Linked DNA regions of Homo sapiens. The protein of the gene in region 2 purifies or fractionates together with the protein of the main gene of each other region. This does not show direct contact. Each region holds a gene or a part of one and is shown on either strand. Other genes may lie near its edges.

Region 1 (7,000 bases), on a different chromosome or scaffold from region 2:
AGAAATTAACATTCATGCTCTGCTGGCGAGGATGTAAATAGGTATAGACTTTCTTGAAAAAAATTGAGACATATATGTTTGTATGTGTGTGTATATATATGTGTGTGTATCTATCTCTCTATATATAGATATATGTGTGTATCTATCTCTCTATATGTAGATCAGCTCCATGTCATCCTTAGTCAATTCTCATAAGGAATGTCTTCACTTTTACAATCAAAGTCAGGCTGTATTAGATAGGCATATGTATAAAACCCAGACTAATAACTATTATTTTCTTTGTTAAACTTCTGAGAACACCTTCGAATAATAGGAAAAGATGACTTCCTGTTAGGAACTGTAATTAACTATGTGTTTCCTCTTCCTGGGTGCTGTCTTTAACCATCAGTCACCATAACCTGCTTATATAACAAATAAAACTGAGATCTAGACTTGTTTTTAAATTTTAAAGTGTTAAATATTCTATTTTCTCTCTCTCTCTCTCTCTATATATATATATATACACACATATATATGAAGAGCCTTTAATTTATTTCCTAGCCTTTGATTCAACAATTCCAATTCTAGGAATTTGTCTAAGGAGATAATCAGAGGTAAGAAAAGAATAGCTGTAAGAAGGTCCAAGAATAAAATATAAATTTTAAACAAAAACCTATGATAGAGCAAGAGCACCATCAACTCAGACAGACATCGCCACTTTAAATTCCAGTTCCCTTTCTAGTCTCATGCATTTCAAGGAAATCACTTCTGTTCGAACTACAAGCAGCCAGAAAGAGCAGACAGTAAAACACAAATAAGACAGCTCGGGCGCAGAGGGAGGTGGGGGGAAAGTCTCTGGAGCAACTGCCAAACTTCACCCTCACAAAATGGGCCCCAGTAAAACAGTGAGCCTTACTTAATAAGCACATTCCTTTCCCTTCAGGTGTACCAAGATAGGGAAGCAAAAAGCAGACTCGGGCGGGGTATGCCTACAGCTGCAGAAAGATGGATGGGAACAGACACACAACTCTCCCTCCCAGAAAAGCACAACAAAGAGACAGAGAAGCAGTCCAAGCCTCTGATAAACTCTCCCACCCTGAAGCCTTAGAAACTCTTAGTCTGTAGGAGAGTGTGTCTCTAACCTAACTCAGCCAGCCGCCCCTCTCAGGTTTATTCAAAATAAACCTGTCAGGCCGGGTGCGGTGGCTCACGCTTGTAATCCCAGCACTTGGGGAGGCCGAGGCGGGTGGATCACGAGGTCAAGAGATCGAGACCATCCTGGCTAAAACAGTGAAACCCTGTCTCTACTAAAAATACAAAAAAATTAGCCGGGCGTGGTGGCGGCCGCCTGTAGTTCCAGCTACTCCGGAGGCTGAGGAAGGAGAATGGCGTGAATCTGGGAGGCGGAGCTTGCAGTGAGCCGAGATTGCGCCACTGTACTCCAGCCTGGGCGACAGAGTGAGACTCCGTCTCAAAAAAATAAAAAATAAAAAATAAAAATAAATAAACAAATCTGTCCCTGTTGACTGTCAAGCCGCCCTTTGTGTTTCTCTCCTCTTTCTTTAATTCTTACAACCTATATGTCCAATAATAGGATGTTTGTTATAGTTGATTGTAATGTAACTGTAGGTTAGAATACTTTACTCATTTAAAAAATTATCTTGTCATAAAAGATTTTTAACAACCTGAGAAAATTTAAATATTTCTATGAGAAAAGGTAAGATATGTGCAATATATTATGTTATACTGCATATAATAATATGTAAGTATTATGTGCAATTTAAATCCATGTCTTATCTCAAAAGGGATTATGTAACTATATATGTATATAATAATGATAATTATTATCATTTTAAATTTATTGACCTGGGTGCAGTGGCTCACACCTGTAATCCCAGCACTTTGGGATGCTGAGGCGGGCAGATCACCTGAGGTCAGGAGTTCAAGAACAGCCTGGCCAATTGCCAAATGGCAAAACCCTGTCTCTACTAAAAATTAAAAAATTAGCCTGGCATGGCCTGTAGTCCCAGCTACTTGGGAGGCTGAGACACAAGAATCGCTTGAGCCTGGGAGGCGGAGGTTGCAGTGAGCTGAGATCGCGCCACTGCACTCCAGCCTGAGTGACAGAGCAAGACTCCGTCTCAAAAAATAAATAAATAGGCCGGGCGCTGTGGCTCACTCTTGTAATCCCAGCACTTTGGGAGGCTGAGGCGGGCGGATCACGAGGTCAGGAGATTGAGACCATCCTGGCTAACACAGTGAAACCCCGTCTCTACTAAAAATATAAAAAATTAGCTGGGCGTGGTGGCAGGCGCCTGTAATCACAGCTATTCAGGAGGCTGAGGCAGAAGAACGGCGTGAACCCGGGAGGCGGAGCTTGCAGTGAGCTGAGATCCCGCCACTGCACTCCAGCCTGGGCGACAGAGCAAGACTCCGTCTCAAAAAATAAATAAATAAATAAATAAATAAATAAATAAATAAATAAATAAATTTTTTGATACTTAATATGTGCCAGGCACTTTTCTAAGCACTTTACATAGAATGTTTCATTTAATTCCCACAACTGTATGAGGTTAATACTATCATTATTCTCATTTTGCAGATTAGGAAATCAAGACATAGAAAAATTAAGGAATTCTCCCAAGGTCACACAGCTAATAAGTAGCACATCTAGGAACTGAACCCATGCAGTCTGACTCCAAATACATACAAAAATACACATATAAATACATACACATAGGCCAGGTGTGGTGGCTCACGCCTGTAATCCCAGCACTTTGGGAGGCCAAGGTGGGCGGATCACGAGGTCAGGAATTGGAGACCAGGCTGACCAACATGGTGAAACCTCATCTCTACTAAAGATACAAAAAATTAGCCGGGTGTGGTAGCACGTGCCTGTAGTCCCAGCTACTTGGGAGGCTGAGACACAAGAATCGCTTAAGCCTGGGAGGCAGAGGTTGCAGTGAGCTGAGATCGCACCATTGCACTCCAGTCTGGGCCACAGGGTGAGAATCTGTCTCAAAAATACATACATACGTACATACATATACACATATGCATTTACTTATTTATATACATATACAGATATAGCATATATGCACAGATAATTAACATGTATAAGTCATACTCCAAAATGTTAAACATGTAGGTTAACATTTTTATTTGTGCTTTCTTTGTATTCCACATTTCCTTATTGAACATATATTAATTTTAGAACTTAAATTTTAAAACTTAGAAACTTATCTTTTCCATATTCTGCTAGCAAAATATTTTTGTCTAAGCAAGGAAATACTCCAGTGTGCCATGGAGACTAATCCAATTCCCACTTGGATGAATATTCTCCAAGATTTCCTAGCCATACAAATGCCCTGTCTCTCCCACAGTGCATTAAAATTATGGCCATCTAGTAAGGCCATTTCAAGCCCCATCTCTTTCTGAAGTCTATTCAGATATTCTTTCTTTAATTTCTGCTGCACTTATAGACAGTACAGAGCACAATACTTAATTGTTCTCAAATTGTTTCCTGTGTATTAGCTTTGGCTCCTCAATTGGATACCAGGTTCTTTATACACTAGCATCATGTCTCACCTTTTTGTTTTGTTTTGTTTTGTTCCCCACCCTATGTCACTTCTAGTACTGGCCCAACAGGAAATGTTCAATAAATACTTGATCATAGACTGACAGATGTTCTTCAAGTAACATAACTATAGTGTAATAGGAGCTTTCTGAAAATTATGGCTAATTCATTAAGAGTGAATTGATTCCAGTGATGGAAATTCATATGATGCAAAATGTGCTGCAGAAAAGAGAAGATTTGGCTGGGCACAGTGGCTTACGCCTGTAATCCCAACACTTTGAGAGGCCGAGGTGGGCAGATCACCTGAGGTCAGGAGTCTGAGACCGGCCTGACCAACATGGTGAAACCCCATCTCTACTAAATACAAAAAATTAGCTGGGTGTGGTGGCGCATGCCTGTAATCCCAGCTACTCGGGGGGCTGAGGCAGGAGAATTGCTTGAACCCGGGAGGCGAAGGTTGCAGTGAGCCCAGATTGCGTCATTGCACTCCAGCCTGGGCAACAAGAGTGAAACTCCATCTCAAAAAAAAAAAAAAAAGAAAAGAAAGAAAAGAAGATTCATTTTAATACTGATTTAATTGATATATATTATTTTAATTCACTCAGTTTAAAACTAGATTTTTCCCACAAAATTCCAGATATTAGCAATATCCCTGAAATAAATGAGAGATCCTCCTACATTACTCTAATCAAATGATAATTAATTAAGTCATGAGGCATAGAAACAATTTGAGACACAAAATAAATAATGGTAATATTTGGGTTATAACACTTAAAATACAATAACTATTAATTGATAGTGATAAAACTAAGCCAAATAAACAAATAAATGTGGGAGAAGGGATAGTTTTTCCTTACTGAAGAATTTCCTTACTGTAGAATACTAATAAATGTAAAATTAATGAGAAAAAGAAAGTCACCATTAGGCAAACACCATAGTAGTAACTGTTACAGGCAAGATCCACTGAAGGATGCTAAACTTAGTGAGTAAAAGTTTGAGAAGAAACAGGACAGTCTCAAAGTACCTTCCCCAAGATATTTGTTAATTACAAAAGGAAAAATAATAACCCTACCTTGGAAAAACCTAGCAGAAGACACCTGACAGACATCACCTTAACGAAGTGCTCAAGGTCAATAAAGCACATCCATTTCATGCACCCCCACATGAGATACTAAGAAAGGCACAACATCACTTCTGAGGAGTTCTTTCCAAAAATGCATAACCTCAATCTAATCATGAGAAAATATCAAAGTCAAATTGAGGGACATTCTACAAAATACTGACAGTAGTCTTCATACTGTCCAGGTCATGAAAGACAAAGAAGGTAGAAGAAAGCATCAGATTGGAGGTCATTAAGGGTTAAGCGTAATAAGGGATCCTGGCTTGGATCCTAGAACAGAAAAAGGGCATTATTAGGAAAACTGATGAAATTAGATAAGACTTATAATTTAGATCAGGGATTGATTGACTCTGGCCTGCTGCTGCCTGTTTTTTAATTAAAGTTTTATTGGAAGACAGCCAAGATCATTCACTTATATTGTCTATGGCTGTTTTCTCCAATGGCAGAGCTGAGTAGTTAGGACAGAGACTGTAAGGCCTGCAAAGCCTAAAATATTTGCTATGCCAGGATCAGCATTAGGTGAGGCAAGCAGGACACCTAGGTCTAAGGAAATATCCTCTCTCTCTCCCTCTCCCTCTCTCTCTCTCTCTCTCTCTGTCTCTCTCAAATTTCTGTACATGCGCAACCCTAAATGTTAGTGCCTCCTTAAATTTTGCATCCTACACACCCTACTTGCCTCATTCTAGTCCTGACTCTGTCTATCTAGTCCTTTACAAAAAAATGTTTGCTGGACCATGGTAGGGTTAACTATAGCAATGTTAATTTTCTGATTTTTTGGTGGTTTGTGCTTGCGATCGGTGGCTGCGTCACTCTGGTAAAGGTGTGCAGTTTTGGGCCATGATCTCTGGGCTGGGATGATCCAGGCTCTCGGTAGAGGCAAGGGAGCCCAGCTATAGCCATGGCCAGTACAATGGTAGCAGTTGGACTGACCATTGCTGCTGCAGGATTTGCAGGCCATTATGTTTTGCAAGCCATGGAGCACATGGAGCCTCAAGTAAAGCAAGTTTTTCAAAGTCTATCAAAATCTGCCTTCAGTGGTGGCTATTACTGAGGTGAGTTTGAACCCAAAATGACAAAACAAGAAGCAGCATTAATGCTAGGGGTAAGCCCTACTGCCAAAAAAGGGAAAATAAGAGATGCTCATTGATAAATTATACTCTTAAATCATAGCAGCCAAAATCAGTGAAGCTAGAAATTTACTAGAAGGTCAAGCTAAAAAATGAAGTAAATGTATGATGAATTTTAAGTTCATTTTAGTTTATGTATATGAGTACCAAGCTTTTATAATAAAATGCCTCAGAGCTATAATTTTTTTTAATTTCTGATTTTGATCATTATACTTTCATTAGGTATGATGTTAACATAAAGGGAAGCTGGGTTAAGGGTATATAGGAACTCTGTTGTACTATTTTTACAACTTTTCTGTAAGTCAAAAATTATTGCAAAATAAAACATCTTAAAAATAATGCAAACTCAAGGATAGGATAAGTGTACTAAGTTCCAAGTGCACAGTAACACTGTGGGGGCCAAAACAACAGCCACAACCACAACCACCACAACTTAGCGCTCTGCACCAGGCACTGTTCAAAGTACTTTATATATCACGTATTATTTAATCCCCACAACTCTGTGAGGTGGGTACTATTTACTTCCATTTACAGGTTAGAAAACTGAGGAATAGAGGCCGGGCGCGGTGGCTCATGCCTGTAATCCCAACACTTTGGGAGGCCAAGGCGGCGGATCACTTGAGGTCAGGAGTTCAAGGCCAGCCTGGACAACATGGTGAAAGCTCATCTGTACAAAAATACAAAAATTAGCTGGGCATAGTGGCATGCACGTATAATCCCTGCTACTCAGGAGGCTGAAGCAGGAGAATCACTTGAACCCAGGAGGCTGCAGTGAGCTGAGATCCTGCCACTGCACTCCAGCCTGGGCAACACAGTGAGACTTCATCTCAAAGAAACAAAAATTTAAAAAAAAAATCCAATATAGGGAGAAAGGCTAACTGTCTTGGAATCAATCTTTGTTAAATTGTTTTGAAATGGGGAATATATTGTTTTCTATATAACATGGAAATCCTCCCATAATTTATATATGTCATTATGTAAACTAGAAAATTAGTCTCATTGCTTGTTTTCATGGTTGTATTTTCAATTTCTGAAAGATAATTTTAAAAACTCTCTGAGAAGGAAAAGCTTCAGGATTACTGCTCTAGAACCATTAGAAAATACATAATTTTACTTTAATCAATTTCTAGCACAAACTTTAAATTGTAAGAACTATATACCAAAGCAAAAGTATTATGTGGGTGTCTCAATTCAATT
Region 2 (16,979 bases):
ACTTTGAGTACCCATACAGCCATTTTTCACTTTTACTACAATATTCTATAAATCACATGAGATATTTAACACTTTATTATAAAATAGGCTTTGTGTTAGATGATTTTGCCCAAATGTAAACTAATGTAGTGTTCTGAGCATGTTTAAGTTAGGGTAGGCTAAACTATGTTTGGTAGGTTAGATGTATTAAAAGCATTTTTGATTAATGATGTCTTCAATTTATGATGTGTTTATTGGAACATAACCTCAATATAAGTTGAAAAGCATATGTATTTTCAATTCTGGCATGAACCTATGGGAATCTTTTGCATTTAAGAACCTCCCCATTTTAATAATTTCATGGGTCTAAGATTCTTCATCTGTTTATAAGGAACTTTAGTCTTAGTGATTAGAGACTAAATTTTTTTTTGAGCAGTAAGAAAACAGCCTTTTGGGACAGATAGTGAGTGATTCTTAGGAACTTGACATTGCCAAGAAATTTTATAGATGCCGAAGAATTCTTATGTGAAATTCACATAAGCATGCCCATTACTAAAGACAGTTTGTATAAAGTAACCCTAAATGTTTATTGAGGAACCTACAGCTTCAACTGACTTACGTGCAGATATGTACCAGGAGAACATCATTTTAGCTTGGGCGTCTTTACTTGGGGTTTTCAGAGGATCCAGGAACCTCACTGTATGCAAAGTCTTGTGGATGTACCTGAATGTTTTTGGAGGCAGGTCACATAGTTTCTGAAAGTGTTCTCTTATTTTCCTCAAATGTAGGTAACCATTGTTACAAGTTATTTAACAGGAGAATAGTAACAATGTCTAACTTATGCTAATGATTTTGTGTGCTGAGCTCCCATTAATTAAAATGTCTTCAGAATGCTTGTTTCCAGATCCTTGGTCTGTATTATTAAGATACATGTCTAGGTGCTACTTCAGGCTTACAGAATCAGTCTTTGGAAGTCAGATCAGGAATCTGCATTTTAACAAGCATCCAGGTGATTTCTTGAGCCCCTCTGAAGTTAGAGCACTACCATTATATATTGTATTTCATATGTTAATCTTTTGATTTATGGCCAAGTGGACAATTCCCTTAATTTTTAAAAGCTTGTCCCTTGATTTTCTAAGATATTTGCTCTAGTTCCGGTCGCCATTTTTAGTAAAAAGTGATGACAGCTCAGCCTGTTATATGTAGATTTCTCATTTCTTACTTTCTGAAGAAAATTAAGCTTTCTGTGTCACTTCTGAGCACGAAACAAGATTAAATTATTGGAATCTGAAAGGCTTCCATCAGTACCTAATCTCATTACCTGATACTAAGTATCTGTACTTGGACATATGTATATACACTGCCGTTTGAATAATGCAACCATATTTGGCCTGTTCTTCCCTTGGGATCTTACAATATGGGGAATTTAAGTTGTATATTTTTGAGGAGTTTTCTAATTACAGATGCTTTCCCCATTGTTGTATGCAGGCTTCTAATTTTCAGGCCATGCATCTTGACACAGGGAAAAATGGTGTGTCACCCTTAGATAGAAAGGTTGGGGGAGTGCCTGCGGTTGTACTGGACATCCACACTCTTTTTTAATATCCACAGCACCTCTTTCAGCCACCTGGGAAATTACACTGTTTATGAAATCAATGTTTAAAAGAAGTGATTGTAAACAAAAGTCTTCTAAGAACGATCAGGAATCAAGAATCCTATCATTTTTGCCTAATGTGATTCAATCCCTATTGATGAAATCAGGATGTTAGAATAATAGGAAGTGAACTATTAAGTATGCCTCTCCCTCTCAAATGATCTAGATAGTATATTGCCCCTCACATACCCCCTCTCTCTGCAAAAGATGACAGAACGAAAAGAAATTCCAGTAAGCTTTGCTGTGATCAATGAGCAGCAGTCAGTTTAGCTTAGCTTTTTAAATTAAAAAGACCTATTAACTTCTAAGATGGACTTTTACTGTGACAGTCAATAATGTGTCCAATATCACACTAGTCTGATTGGAAGCACAGGACCCAGTACAGTAGGTTGGTAGACTGCTTTAAAAATAGAAATAGAGCTATTTTTCTATGGCTTTGAGTGTTGTTTTCCCTGATCATGTAGGTACTAGAATCCCTTCCATTGGTGTAACTGACTCACTTTAGAAAGCAAGTTGCTCTCCAGTAGGAGAGCCATCAAGGTACTTCTGAATGTCAGCATTAACACTGCATGCTACCTACAGTCACTGTCAGGGGCACGAATATGGAGTACGTACCGAAAGATTTTGGCCACATGTTTTGTTAGCTAAGTCAAGTCTTAAATGAGCCAAATGTAGTATTTGCTGACTAGGAAGTAAGTCATTTGAAATTAACAGTATTTAGGCTGTACATGGTGGCTCATGCCTGTGATCCCAGCACTTTGGGAGGCTGAGACGGGAGGATTGCTTGAGCCCAGAAGTTTAATGTTACATTGAGCTATGATGGTGCCACTGCACTCCAGCCTGGGCAACAGAGCAAGACCCTATCTCTTAAAAAAAAAAAGTTAACAGCATGTAACCCTAATAGATTATATAGAGATTAAATTGTTAAGTTTTTGGAGTGAAATGTAAGTTCTTTTAGTTTTTGTACTTTTAAAAGTAATACTATTATAAACACATAGATGTCCCTTTACACACTTCTTCCCCCAAATGGACATCTGCTATTCCTTCTTTCGCACATCAAGGTGTAAAGTAGTGAAGTCTAAAAGCTGAATTTTTAAAACTTGCTCAAATATTTATCCCAAAGTTATTCAACTTTTGAATAACTTTGGGACAAATTATTCTTTTTTGATTAACAGAGCTTTTAAGCATTCTGTGTAAAAGCTAATGACTTCTTAAAGGAGGAGAAACTATAGTTCTCACTAGCTTCCTCCACATCCTACTAATAATGTTTTTCTAAACTAACCTTTGAACTTTCTGTGGAGAATGACTTTTGCCAAAGTTTTATTGACAAGTGAAGACAGGAGAAAATCCTTTTCATTGACATTTCATACCTGAAAAGCGCTTCATAAGCTACAGCTTACATAGTGGATGGGTTGTCTTGGCAAAGGCACATCTTAGGGATGGAATTTAAGGAATAAGAATGTGGTCAATTAGTTCAGATGGCAGAATTCTGAAGCCATCAGTCAGACACACTAGAATCCTTTCCCGATTGAAATTGCTTTTATCAAAAGGCAATAACCGATGCTGGAGAGGATGTGGAGAAAGGGGAACTCTCATACACTTGGTGGGAATGTAAGTTAGTACAACCACCATGGAGAACAATTTGGAAGTTAGTAAAAAAAAAAAAAAGCTAAAAAAACTACCATATGGTCCAGCAATCCCACTGCTGAGTGTACATCCAAAAGAAAGGGAATTAGAGTATCCAAGAGAGATGCGTACTCCCATGTTTATTGCAGCATGATTATAAGAGCCAAGATATGGACTCAACCTACACATCCATCAACAGATGAATAAAGAAAATGTGGTACATATACAGAATGGAATATTATTCAGCCATAAAAATAAAATTCTGATGTGACAACACAGATGTAAGTAGAGGACATGTTAATTGAAATAAGCCAGGCATGGAAAGATAAATATTTCATGTTCTCATTCATATGTGGAGGCTAAGAAAAATTGCATTTATGGAGATAGTAGAATGATGGTTACCAGAGGGTGGGAAGGGTGGTGGGGAGGTGGGACAAAGAAGGGGTGGTTAATGCGTATAAAAATACAATCAGAAGGAATAAGATCTAGTGTTTGGTAGCACAACAGGGTGACTATAGTTAACAATAATTTATTGTATATTTCAAAGTAAAGAGTAGAATTGGAATGTTCCTAATGCAAAGAAACGATAAGTGCTTGAGGTGATGACTATCTGCCCTCCCACCAAAAAAAATTCTTTCTCCAAATGTATTCCCCTTAATCCTAACAGGACAACTGAATCATTCTGAACATAAGAATACAACTTCCTTTAAAAAAACAACACACACACACACACACACACACACACACACACACACATACACAACACTTGTAGAAAAGGAGATTCTTTACCACAGAAATTCTCATTTTTATGGGTCACTCTGAATTTGATTTTGTGACACTTTTTCCCATGTCTGGATTGCTGAGGTTTCCACATCCTTCTTCAGCTCTACCCCTCAGAATTAGACATAAAGAAGTAAGTTTAGAAGAGAGTTTATTCTGTAAGAAGGTTTGAATTATAAATATTGTATTTGATAGCTTCACAATACCGAGTGGATCCATAAGAGGCCTAGCCTTGGTCCAGGGTTCACTCATATTTTAATTTCCTAAGTTTCCTGAGTTTTCCTTAAAGTCTCACATTGTCTAAGAGCATCACCATGGATTTTAAAAAATACAGTCTTCGTTGTTAAGCTTGCTTTAAAAAACTGCCGCCAGGCACGGTGGCTCATGCCTGTAATCCCAACATTTTGGGAGGCTGAGGTGGGTGGATCACCTGAGGTCAGAAGTTCAAGACCAGCCTGGTCAACATGGCAAAACGCTGTCTCTACTAAAAATACAAAAATTAGCTGGGTGTGGTGGCGGACACCTGTAATCCAGGCTAACAGGGAGGCTGAGGCACAAGAATCACTTGAACCGGGGAGGTGGAGGTTGCAATGAGCCGAGATCGTGCCACTGCACTCCAGCCTGGGCAACAGCAAGACTCCATCTCAAAAGAAGAAGAAGAAGAAAAAAAAGTAGAAGTTTTATATGCCTTATTTTTATTCTTGTTCTCTTATAATTTATATGCTATCACTGACCCAAAGTTTCTTGGCCACAATTTAGAATTGTATACCCATGTAAACTCAAATAATGTGAGCCGTGTTGATAGGTGGTACTTCAAATAATACAACTTGCTTTAGGGGCTTGTTTTCTCAAGTTCAAGGTGAATTCAGGGTGGAGTCTGGATGCCTGGGTCACCTTTATAAGGTGCTTTATATTCTTGCAAAGAATATAAAATTTATTCTATAAGCTTTGGAAGTCAAATGTCAGAAAATAATTTAGTCAAACTGAATTGTTCATATTAGAAAATGTCTACTTATGAAGTAAAACAAAAAGCTTAGACTAAGAACACAGATTGAGTCCGTCATGGGTCTGAGACCTGGTTCAGTTGCTTCTTAGTTTTGTGACCAGGCCTCTCAGCCCTCAGTTTCTCATTTGTAGATGAGGATATTACCTACCTCAGTTGTGAGGAGTAAATGGAGTACATATAAAATGTCTAATATGGTACTGGGCATGATAAAGCACTTATAAATGCTATCATTATTATTTCATGGCAACCAAATAGATACTGCCACAAACTATCTTTTTGAATCTTAAAGCTACATGGTTTGCTTTTCCTCCCCAAACATACTATCCTACAGATAGAGCCTTGAGGCACCCATTGGTTTTTTTTCTATTGACTGAGGTCATTTTGACTCCAAATCTGAACTGTGTATTCTGGTTTCTTCTGAGCCACAGCCTCACTGACCCCACCATAAATCACCATTCTTTTTATGCTTCAGTTTTCTTCATATTTGCTTAGATATGCTTGCCTTTTATCCATTCCCCCTTTATAAAAATTATTATTAAAAATGATGAAAGATGAGTGTAAGATACAGCTTATGTTTTGCTTATTTATGAAGTCTGATCACCCTCAAGTCAATAAATAATCAAAATTAAAAATGACATGTCTGCATTAAACATTTTTAGTAGTATGGGAAATTATGGTGTCTGACAGTCAGTGAACATTTTATTAGGCAACAAATTAATGCTTAATATTGTGGACAGCTGTTTTTGGTTATGCTTCAACATTAGGTCAATTTGGTCAGACTCTGATACCAAATTGTCCTGCTTGATTTCAGGTCAGATTGTATTATCTGCATGTCTAGATGGTTGACACAGCCTTCATGCAAAGTTTCAGTGCAATTTTTCTTTGTTTATCCTTTTTCCCTCTCAAAATGATAGTTTATGTAGTATTTGAGAGTAATCAGCAGGAACAAATACTTTTTTGTGTTATAAACACCATCTGTTACAATATGAGTTGAAGTGCTAAAAGCCACTTGAGTATTAATTTTCAGAAATTTTCATCTGAGCACAGTGTATCACTCATATTGACTATTGAGACTAATAATCAAGGCTTTTCACTCAAAGTCAGGAGAGATGTTGGTTTGTGCATATCTTGAAAATAAAATGGTGTTATGGAGGAGTCTGCTTGAGTTTCCTAAAGGTAAAAAATTGCATGCTTATTTCATTTCCTTTTACTGATAAGTTACAATACTACTAAATCAAGGAAGCACCTTAGATAGGCAATAAACTTATTTTGGTATGATATTCATGTGGTTAATTTGACAAAATTAGGAGCAGTTGGTAGTAATAGAGAACAATTGCTGCCAAGAAGACCAAAGTATACCCTATAATCTCTAGAAGACAAAGTTGATGGGAAAAAAATCCAGCCAAACTAATTGTGAGCTTGATTGTGTGCTATAAATATAAAGGTCAGCCCTTTCTCTTGCCTTGTTCAACATGAATTTAAGCATAGTAAGCACATGCACCAAATTTGCTTGTGACACATACTTGATAGACTGGAATGATGGCTTAAAACCTAAAGGACAAATTATTAAAGGAAAAGGAATCAGACTTTTTGTCGAATTCCAATCTTGAAACTCTCACTTTGCTTTGAGTATCTCCAAACTCTCACATCCAATATCTATCCTTTAATAACTTTACACCTGCTTTCTCCATTCACACTGGGGTGTTGCCAGGCAAATTCTCCCTTACTTTAAGTCTACTCATGTCCTTCCATTCTTTCTCCCGAACACATTTCTTTGCACTGCTGAAGCCTAGATTTCTCTTCACGACATTGCATTTCCAGCTGGCTTCTAACTTGGCCAGCATGGTGGGTGTGAGTGGTAAGGGAAGGAGAAGAAATAAGGAGTCCTCAGGCCTCTCACTTTCTGTCTATGAAATGGAAATTGGTAGGTGTGGATAGGTTGGTCTCTTCCAGTTGTGGGCCATGGATGCTTCAGCATCCCCTTGGTTGTCTTAGTTTATTTATATTGCCTTTTTCATTTCTTTGTTCATATGGGCTACAGCCTCTCAGAAGCCATTTCCATTTTTCCAGGTGTTTTAAGGACTAGTTTATAGTATTTCTCTCATTTCACTGCTTTCCTCAATGACAACAAATACCTATGTTGAGGACTCATTGGTGTTCTTAATATAAAACTTCCCTAATTTTGTGGACCCCTATTTCATATCTCAGCTGTTTGCCGTCATGGCCATTCATGATCACATGGCCCTCTTACACCTGTAAGATCTTATATTGGAGGTCTCCTTATCTGACAGTATCTCTTTTTATATTTTCCCACCCAATTTTTCGCTTCCTGATGCCTAGCCTCTTTAGCTGCTTGATCCAAGCCACTTCTGTTGGCTTACCTTGTGACTATTGACTTCTTACTTATCATGAATTATGAGGGCAACCACCTCATTAAAACCTAGGTATCCACGTCTCTTAAATTTCTGTCAAATATTGCAAACCAATGCTCAATTTTATATTACTCTGGCTTCAGAATCAATGAGGCATAGGGAGATAATTAACACTTTGAGTGTCGAATATCTGCCAGCCACCATGTTAATCACTTTATACATATACAATACAATCAGCATAACAGCCCTATAAGGTTTAGATATTATTGCCCTACTATTACAGAAATGGAGGCTGAAAAATGTGAAGTAATGTGTCCTGATTAAGCATAAGTAGGCAAATAGCAGAGTGAAGATTTAAACTTAGTTTTATTTTTAAAAATGTCTTATTTCCATGCAGTATTTATTTATTTATTTATTTACTTTAGAGATGGGGTTTTGCTCTGTCATTCAAGCTAGGGTGCAGTGGCATGACCATAACTCACTGCAGCCTTGAACTCCTTGGCTCAAGCGAGCCTTCTGCTTCAGCCTCCTGAGCAGCTGGGAATACTGCCACATACCATTACACTAGTAATTTTTATTTTTATTTTTGTCTTTTGTAGAGATGGGGTCTCATTATGTTTCCCAGGCTGGTCTTAAACTCCTGGCCTCAGCAATCATCCTGCCTTGGCCTCCCAAAGTGCTGGGATTATAGGCCTGAGCCATTATGCCCGGCATAATGTATTTTTAAAGTTTATATTTTTGTAATCAATATCACACAGGTACATGGTTTCCACAAGACTTTTTGTTATGAGAAACTGTTCCTCTCCTTCTCCCCGCCATCCATATCCTCCTACCCTCCCCAACCCCCACCAGTGGCGAGACTTTCAACTGTCAGGTCATGCTTGTGGTATTTACTTCCATATGTCCCAATGCTGTAATATGTGTATGCTGCTACTACTTTGATTTTCAGCTCTAGGCATTAACCATTGATTTTTCATCTTGGAAGACAAGAATTTAGCTGTTTACCCTCTCCCCACAGCCCCTATTATTCACATACACACTTTCTTATCTGTCTGTCTTCTAATATAATTGATATAATATTGGTTAGGTCAATATTTAGTGCTTATGTTATGACTTCGTAACTGTAATCCCCAAATGAGACATGCTCCCCTTCAGCCCTAATTTTCATTTTTCTTGGGGAGTTAATTCTTATCAAGGTTTTTTACTGGCTGATTTTATATACAGTTGTCACTAATCTAACCCCACACTCTCTACCAAATATTTAAATTGAGGCTTGTCAAATGTGAGCTTACCTACAGGGTAATCTGTTTGCATTATTTTGTTCAGAGCTTTCAATATTATCTGAGCTTTCAGTGTGTTTTAAGATCTTGCCTTTGCCAGATTCTCCAAAGATATTTTTTGTCTTTATTTGGCTGGAGAATAAATGCCTGGCTGTCAGACTTCTGAGGTTTGGGAGTCTCCATGTCATGATATCATGAGTCTCACTACCTCAATACATTCATTTAATCAGAATGGTACCCGTATTCTCAACTATGCCTGATGCTCCTAAGTACAGAGGCCCTTTGTTTTACCCTTTCCAGAGAATAACCTTCAATTTTCTACCTGGGGGCAAAAGAGGAGGTGGCTTGGCTATTTAGTCAAGGGGAATATGGAATTTTAACTCCTTTTTAAAAATAAGATAACAGCTTTATCGAGATATGATATATATGCCAAAAGATTCCCTCCCTTAAAGTGTACAATTTTGTGGTTTTTAGTATATTCACAAAGTTGTGTAAATATCACTAATATTTAATTTTATTAGTGATGAATTCTGTATGAATTTTATTAGTGATAAATTCTGTATAAAAATTCATTTTCATACAGAAACCTTGTACCTTTTAGCAGCTATTCCCCACCTCTTCTTTTTTTCCAGTCCCTGGCAGCCACTAATCTACTTTCTGTGTGTGTCTCTCTCTCTTTTTAAAACGATCTCTTTTTACATCTTCTAGACATTTCATATAAACAAAATCTTGCAATACATGCATGGTCTTTTGTGACTGGCGTCTTTCACTTAGCATAATATTTTCAAGGTTCACCCATATTGTAACATGTATCAGTACATTATTTCCTTATATTGCTAAATAACATTTTATTTATCATGTATCATTTTTTGTTTTTTTCATTAGGTGATAGTATTTGAGTTGTTTCTATTTTTGGCTATTATGAATAATGCTGCTATGAACATTCATGTACAGTTTTTGTGTGGATGTATATTTTCATTTTTCTTCGGTGTATACCTAAGGGTGGAATTGCTGAATCATGTAGTAACTCTAGTTTTACCTTTGTGAGGAACCGCCAAACGTTTTTTCAAAGTGACTACACCATTTTACACATAGCTAGGAGTGAAATTGTTGAGTCATACAGTAACTTTATGTTTTGCATTTTGAGAAACCACCAAACTGTTTCCCAAAGTGACTGTACCATTTTATAATACCACCAGCAATGTGTGAGTGTTCCACATTTTCTGCTTCTTTACCAACATTTGTTATTGTCTGTCTTTTTTATTTTAGCCATCCTAGTCGGTCAGAAGTCATACTGTGTTTTTTGATTTGCATTTCCCTAATGACTATTGATGTAGAGCACCTTTTCCTGTTTGCACTGGCCATATCTTCTTTGGAGAAATGTCTATTAATTTTTTTTTGCCCAGCCAGAGCATGATAGCAAGACCCTGCCTTTACAACAGCAACAAAAAATTAGCTGGGTGTGATGGCCTGTGCTTGTAGTCCCAGATGCTTGGGACGCTGAGGCAGGAGGATCACTTGAGCCCAGGAGGTTGAGGCTGCCAAGAACTATGATTGTGCCACTGCACTCCACTGTGGGTAACAAAGCCAGCTGTCTCAAATAAATTTTGTTTCCCAATTAAAAATTGGTCTGTTTTTTTAATTGCTGAGTTGTAGGAATTTTTTATTCTGGATACTGTTTCCTATGAGATATATGATTTATAAATATTTCCTCCCACATTGTGGGTTGTCTTTTCACTTTTCTGAGGGTGTCCTCTGAAGCACAGAAGTTTTTAATTTTGATGAAATCTTATTTTTTTCTTTAGGTACTTATGTTTTTGGTGTCCTATCTAAGAAACAATGGCCTAATCCAAAGTCAAAAACATTTACTCCTATCCTTTCTTCTAAGAATTTTAATTTTAGTTCTTACATGTGTGTTTGTGATTCATTTTGAGTTAATTTTTGTGTGCAATGTGAAATAGAAGTCCATCTTCATTATTTTGCATGTGGATATCCAAAGTTGTCCCGGGACAGTTTGTTCAAAAGATCATTCTTTCCCCATTGAATTGTCTTGGCACGTTTGTTGAAAATCAATTCCCTCTACATGTAAGGGTTTATTTCTGGACACTCAATTCTATTTCATTTACCTATATATCTGTCCTTAGTACCACACTGTCTTGATTATTGTAACTTTGTTATAAGTTTTGATTTGTCTAACTGCTTCTCACACTTTGAACCACTCTTTTTCAGTCTCATCTACCTTCAATTCCAGAGGTATTTGAGCCTTTAGGGTATTCTGTCATGTAAAGTGCGTTGCTTCTAAGTCTTCTTCATTGATAGCTTAAGGTTCAGCTTTCCCATGACTGCAAAGCCTTTGATCAGTTTTTTCTTCTTTCAAGCTGCTAATTTTTTGTTGCCATTGTTTTCCAACTTATGCGACTCTTGTGTACCTTGAAAAGGAATTTTTTATCTTGTTTTAATAGGGTTTCCAGGGTGAGCAAAAGTAGTTAAATCTTTAATATTCTAAATATATATTATAAATAAATTACTTTTAATATCTTTTTTTCCCTCATTTCCACATCCAAGCAGGGACACTATCTAGTGGATTTTATCCCTTCACATCTCTGGTTCTTTCATTACATCTCAGTAACATTAGCTACTATTATTGTCATTAGTTCATTTGCCTTATTTAAACTTGCTTCTCCTATTAGCTGATTAGAGCTGACCCTTACAGAAAATGTAAGCCAAATAATATTTTCAGAATTAGATCAATTAATAATTATGTCTCTTCAAGACTCCAGAAACAATTAAACTTCAGTCAATATTAGTTCATCCCGACTTGTTTTGAAATTTTTTTTCTATATAGACAAGCAGTGCCAGCACCAGATTTTGTTTAGATTTTCAGTCAAACAAGCACATTTGGTCAAGAGTTTTTCATTCTTCAGGAGATTGGTAACATTTTCCTGTGGCCTGGTGAATTTTATGACTTTCTAAGGTTTGAATAGTAAGAATATTGATTAATCTATGCATGTCAAGTTGCTGGATTTGATCTAGTTGACATTGATATTTGACAGTATGTTTAGTCATTAAAAGCTCAAATGTCATAGTACTCTTAACCTCTGCTTTCTCCTCACCACATAACGCACAGATCTCGTATATTTAAGTAGCACTTTTTATATGAAAGGGTCATGTCAAAGATTAAATTTCCATGATTTCCAGTAGAGAGAAAAACCACAAGAGTATTAAAATGAATGGCTGATATATGGGAATCTAGTTTCCTTTTATTTCTCATTTAGTAAGGAAGATTCCAGGATTAGTATCTGAGCTATATGTAATCTACATGTGGCTAAATTGAACCCTTACCTTTCCTTTGCAATACATTTTCCTCCATATAACTCTGCATAGAGGCATCACAGGATTAAGAAGAAGCCCTTTTATGAAAGCCATTACACATATATACACTCACACATTTGCATGCACAAAATTAGAATATGTCAAGTCAGAAAAAGCTTATTAACATAAAATGGAGTTGGTCAATGAGTAAAAAAAATATGCTGATGGGAGGGATAAGATCTAGTGTTCGGGAGCACAATAATTTATTTTCTTTTGTATTTTAAAATAACTGGAAGAGTGGAATTGGAATGTTTCTAACACAAAAAGAAATGATAAATGCTTGAGGCAATGGATATCTTGATTACCTTATTTGATCATTACACATTGTACGCTTGTGTCAAAATATCACATGTGCCTTATAAATGTGTACAACTATTAGTTATCCATAAAAATTAAAAATTAAAAAATCCGTAAAATGGTTTAAGCATTCAGCAGTGCTGATCTTTCTTAAATTATTTTTCTAATTTTGGAAAGAAAGCACAAAATCTTTGAATTCACAATTGCTTAAAGACTGAGGTTAACTTGCCAGTGGCAGGCTTGAGAGATGAGAGAACTAACGTCAGAGGATAGATGGTTTCTTGTACAAATAACACCCCCTTATGTATTGTTCTCCACCACCCCCGCCCAAAAAGCTACTCGACCTATGAAACAAATCACACTATGAGCACAGATAACCCCAGGCTTCAGGTCTGTAATCTGACTGTGGCCATCGGCAACCAGAAATGAGTTTCTTTCTAATCAGTCTTGCATCAGTCTCCAGTCATTCATATAAAGGAGCCCGGGGATGGGAGGATTCGCATTGCTCTTCAGCACCAGGGTTCTGGACAGCGCCCCAAGCAGGCAGCTGATCGCACGCCCCTTCCTCTCAATCTCCGCCAGCGCTGCTACTGCCCCTCTAGTACCCCCTGCTGCAGAGAAAGAATATTACACCGGGATCCATGCAGCCAGCAATGATGATGTTTTCCAGTAAATACTGGGCACGGAGAGGGTTTTCCCTGGATTCAGCAGTGCCCGAAGAGCATCAGCTACTTGGCAGCTCAACAGTGAGTACTACGTACCTGGCACTATGGAGAATTATTTTTTAGGGTGTGACCATCTTCTCCTCACCATATGAATCCCTTTTGTAGTGTAAGCACGCACACCTCAAATTTCTCCTTCTTTATAATCTGTCTACCCTGCTTTCCTCCTGTCTGCCTCCAGTCTTCCTCTTCTCTCCATAAGTAAAGCGAGTGTGCCAATCACTGCGTGCTCAACTTTTTTTCCGCAAAGTTTGTAAGTAGAGAGTTAAGAAGTTCCTGAACATTAAGAATGAGAGATTGTATGAATCAATGTCTTAAATCTACAGCCAAAAAAAAAAAAAAAAAAATGGAGTGTGAAGAATTTTGAAAAGCCGTTTATTATGAGGAGGAGGAGTAGGGAGAACAAATTAAATAAATTTCCACGGTTTTCAGAAGATCATTGTGTCTCCTACACCCCCTTCAGTTTACAAAGCCTGGTCTTTAAACATAGAACTATTATTTTCTCTTCTTAGTTATGGGTGCAGGTTATTGGAATAAAAGAAAGATTGGATTCCTTTCAAAAGTTTTTCTGTGTTTCACATTGCTCAATTTTTTTCAGTTTACTTGATGGAATAATGAAAGCAATACACCACTTGCTATAGTATTTAAGGGAGTTTTATGTTTATAATATCTACAGGATAAAAAAGCAGTATTTGCAGGATTTTAGATCCTGCTTTCAGGTAGTAGTCATGGGATTTAATAAAAACCACGAAATAAAAATGTATCCAGGTCCTAGTCATTAAAAATATTAAATGGTATTTTATTACTGTACTATCAGAGTTTATCAACCAAATCCAATTCAGTCTGTATCATAGAATCATCTGTTTTAATTTCGTAGCTCCAAATATGTGCCAGAGGGCTGCGTTGGACTGACATATTATTACTGATAAAAATGTTGAAAAGTAAACATGGCAACTTCTGTAGAATTATTTAAATCAATTTGCAAAAATGAGGCCAAAATGTAAATAGATTTTTTAACATTTAAATATCATGAATATTTGGATGAGATATTACAATGAAGAGTTTTGAAGTCATAATTAACTGCTAGAAGGAAAACAAAGTAAGCTCAGGGTAATGGTTAATGTATGACCCTTTTATATAAAAAATGCTACTTCTGTATGCAAGATCTGTGTGTTGTGTGGTGAGGAGGAGGCAGATGTTAAGAACACTGAGACATTTGAGCTTTTAATGACTAAACATACTGTCAAATGTCAATGTCTGCATAAACTTCTTCCCTCCCTCAAGTCATAAATAATAAAATCTCCATCTCTATTATATATAAATCTAGTGAGTAAGGCAATACTGATGTGTGAAAATAAAGCCAGTAGAGAAATCAGAAGAAGACAATGGCAGATAACTATTCACTGGGTCCCAAAGCAAACCTACATTTCTCAGTTTCATGAGGATGTAGTAGATTGGTACGATTGTATTAAATCACCATTTGCCAGGAGTTACTTCTATGTCTGCCCAATGCTGTATTTGCATATAAAGAATATAAAACAGACCACATAATTTTGCATTGTCTGTCAAATGAAAGTTTCCAGCTTGTTGTTTTTGTTTTGTTTCCTCCCATTCTATTCCTAAATAAAGTTTCCAGCTTTTTATTCTGCATTTCTGGCAATGTGACCTGAGTTACTGGAATCTGTCATTTTTTTCTTTAGCCAGCAGGATTAATAGACATTACTTCATCAGGCAATATAAAATCTTAAGTGGCTAATGAAGTGTTAATCTTTTTCAGTTTCTCAGATTTTTACTGTTTGCCCCTAATAATTAGCTGGCCAGGTTTCTTCCTTCCTGCCTTTCTCCTTTTTTCCTTTTATTTGTCACTGAATTTTAATAGTCACTTCTCAAATATTATCTTCTGACACAGATGGCCTTAGAGTTAGTTATACATGTGTCTGTGCTGAACTTTTGCAGGCAGATTCACATTGACAATGTGGATCTAACTGAAGAAAGTAATACTACCCATTAATTTCTGGGCATGTGCTGACATATTTTGGAATGAAATCGATATTTTGTTTTTAAAATTTAATTGAAACTAAAATTATTTTCAAAAATATGTTTGATCTTATTTTTAATATGGTTAGTAATTAATATAGTTTCCATAGGATTCAACGAGGCTAAGAGATCAAATTTTGTGCTGTAAAATAATCCTAGAAAGGCAGGAATTTTTCATATATGATATTGCAGGCGTTACGACAGTCAGGTTTTTGTTGCTATTAAAGTGAAGCAAATCTGATCCCCTTTTAATTTCAACCACTAGATGATGTCTTAGACCATTGGAAAATAGTGTCTCAGAATAAATTAGACCAATATTTATGACTGAAAGTTATGAGTGACACGGCAACTTCACCTTAAGTTTGTATGATTGGTGGAGCTTCCAGCTTATGAATGACATGTATGGGAAAAATCTAATTACGGAGGATTCTGGAACCCTAACTAATATTTTGTTTTATTATGCTTCGACATTCCTGAAGCTAAATAAACCTAACTCTGGCAAAAATGACGACAAAGGCAACAAGGGAAGCAGCAAACGTGAAGCTGCTACCGAAAGTGGCAAGACAGCAGTTGTTTTCTCCTTGAAGAATGAAGTTGGTGGATTGGTAAAAGCACTGAGGCTCTTTCAGGTGAATGTGAAATATCATTACATAATTTTAAAAGTGACCGTGTGCCTGGGTACAAACCTGTTATCTGCTATGAAACATTACTGAATCAATTTCTGGATAATGTGGTGAAAGATTCAAAGGAACCAAACTTCGTGAGGCTTTAAAAGGGGAGTTGTCTGTCAAGCAATGAAATAAGCAGAATTGCCTAAGCTGTGGCTTATTAATGCAGAGTTAGCTGGTTAGGAACTCTGAAGACTATTGCCAGGTTAGGAGGTCAGTACTTCAAAAACGTGAGCTTCACACCTGAAAATGAAAACACAAGAGCCAAACAGGGTATCTTAAGTAGCAAGAGCCTGCAACTTGATTTGATTTGTTCAAATTTGAATTTACACATGTCCTAGGAGCATGTTTATTATGAAAAACTGAGATACATGAATATAGGCACACGGTATTCCCCTAAGTCTCATTGTTTATGTGTCTTAATGTATCTTTTTGCGAAGATGAGTCACTCTCCTTATATTATATATTGTTGGGGTAGCTCTTCCCTTATCTTATAGAAATGTTCATAGCATCTTCTCAGGCCCAAATCTGTAGTTTGAACCCTCAAGAAAGATCCTGGTTAGGGATGAGGCTGGAAAAGCCCAGAAAAGCTGTTGTGTTCTTGCCAGCATGTACCTAATGGTTTCTGTACCCATCAGCAAACACCCTCCCTTACAAATGCATTTTGTTTGGGGGCAGTGGCGGTTGATGAGAGCTGTTAAGATAAGGAACCTAGCTCTGCGTGATGCCTTGGGCTGCTAGTGCAGTGGAAAGATAGCTGCAATTGCAGTTAGGGGGTTCAGACCTGTGTTATCCTGGCTTGGCTAAACACTAGCTGCTACTTAGGTTCAATTTCTTTATTTGTAAAATTGCATTAATAATTCCTACCTAACAGGATTGCTGGGACGACATAATATGAGTGAAAGTGCTTTGTAAAGTGTACAACTATGAGGCATTATTATGATGCCTCTATGATGATCATAGCAGGGGAATTAGAAGCCTGATTTGGCAAATAATTTCTTTTTCTCTTTTGACCTCGAAGAAAGGATCAGGCACCATAAACAGTGGTAATGGAAATCTGAGGAAATATTTTACAGACAATTATGTCATCCAAGGCTGTGTCCATACAGTGCCAACGGCAGGCCAATTCAATTAGACAGCTGGGTGCAGTGGATAAATTCCTGGAGAAGGAGTTAGCAGCCCTGAG

What was found.
Region 1: the proteins of TPH2 (region 2) and DNAJC12 purify together in Homo sapiens (affinity purification with mass spectrometry; 2 studies listed by BioGRID and IntAct, with this or other methods). This does not show direct contact.

What each region holds. Positions count from the first base shown.
Region 1 is NC_000010.11:67,828,189-67,835,188, forward strand, and holds part of DNAJC12 (dnaJ homolog subfamily C member 12), read right to left. Parts: intron 1-7,000. UniProt on the Homo sapiens protein: Probable co-chaperone that participates in the proper folding of biopterin-dependent aromatic amino acid hydroxylases, which include phenylalanine-4-hydroxylase (PAH), tyrosine 3-monooxygenase (TH) and peripheral and neuronal tryptophan hydroxylases (TPH1 and TPH2).
Region 2 is NC_000012.12:71,925,980-71,942,958, forward strand, and holds the start of TPH2 (tryptophan 5-hydroxylase 2), read left to right. Parts: upstream 1-12,865; 5' UTR 12,866-13,007; coding exon 13,008-13,112; intron 13,113-15,604; coding exon 15,605-15,754; intron 15,755-16,979.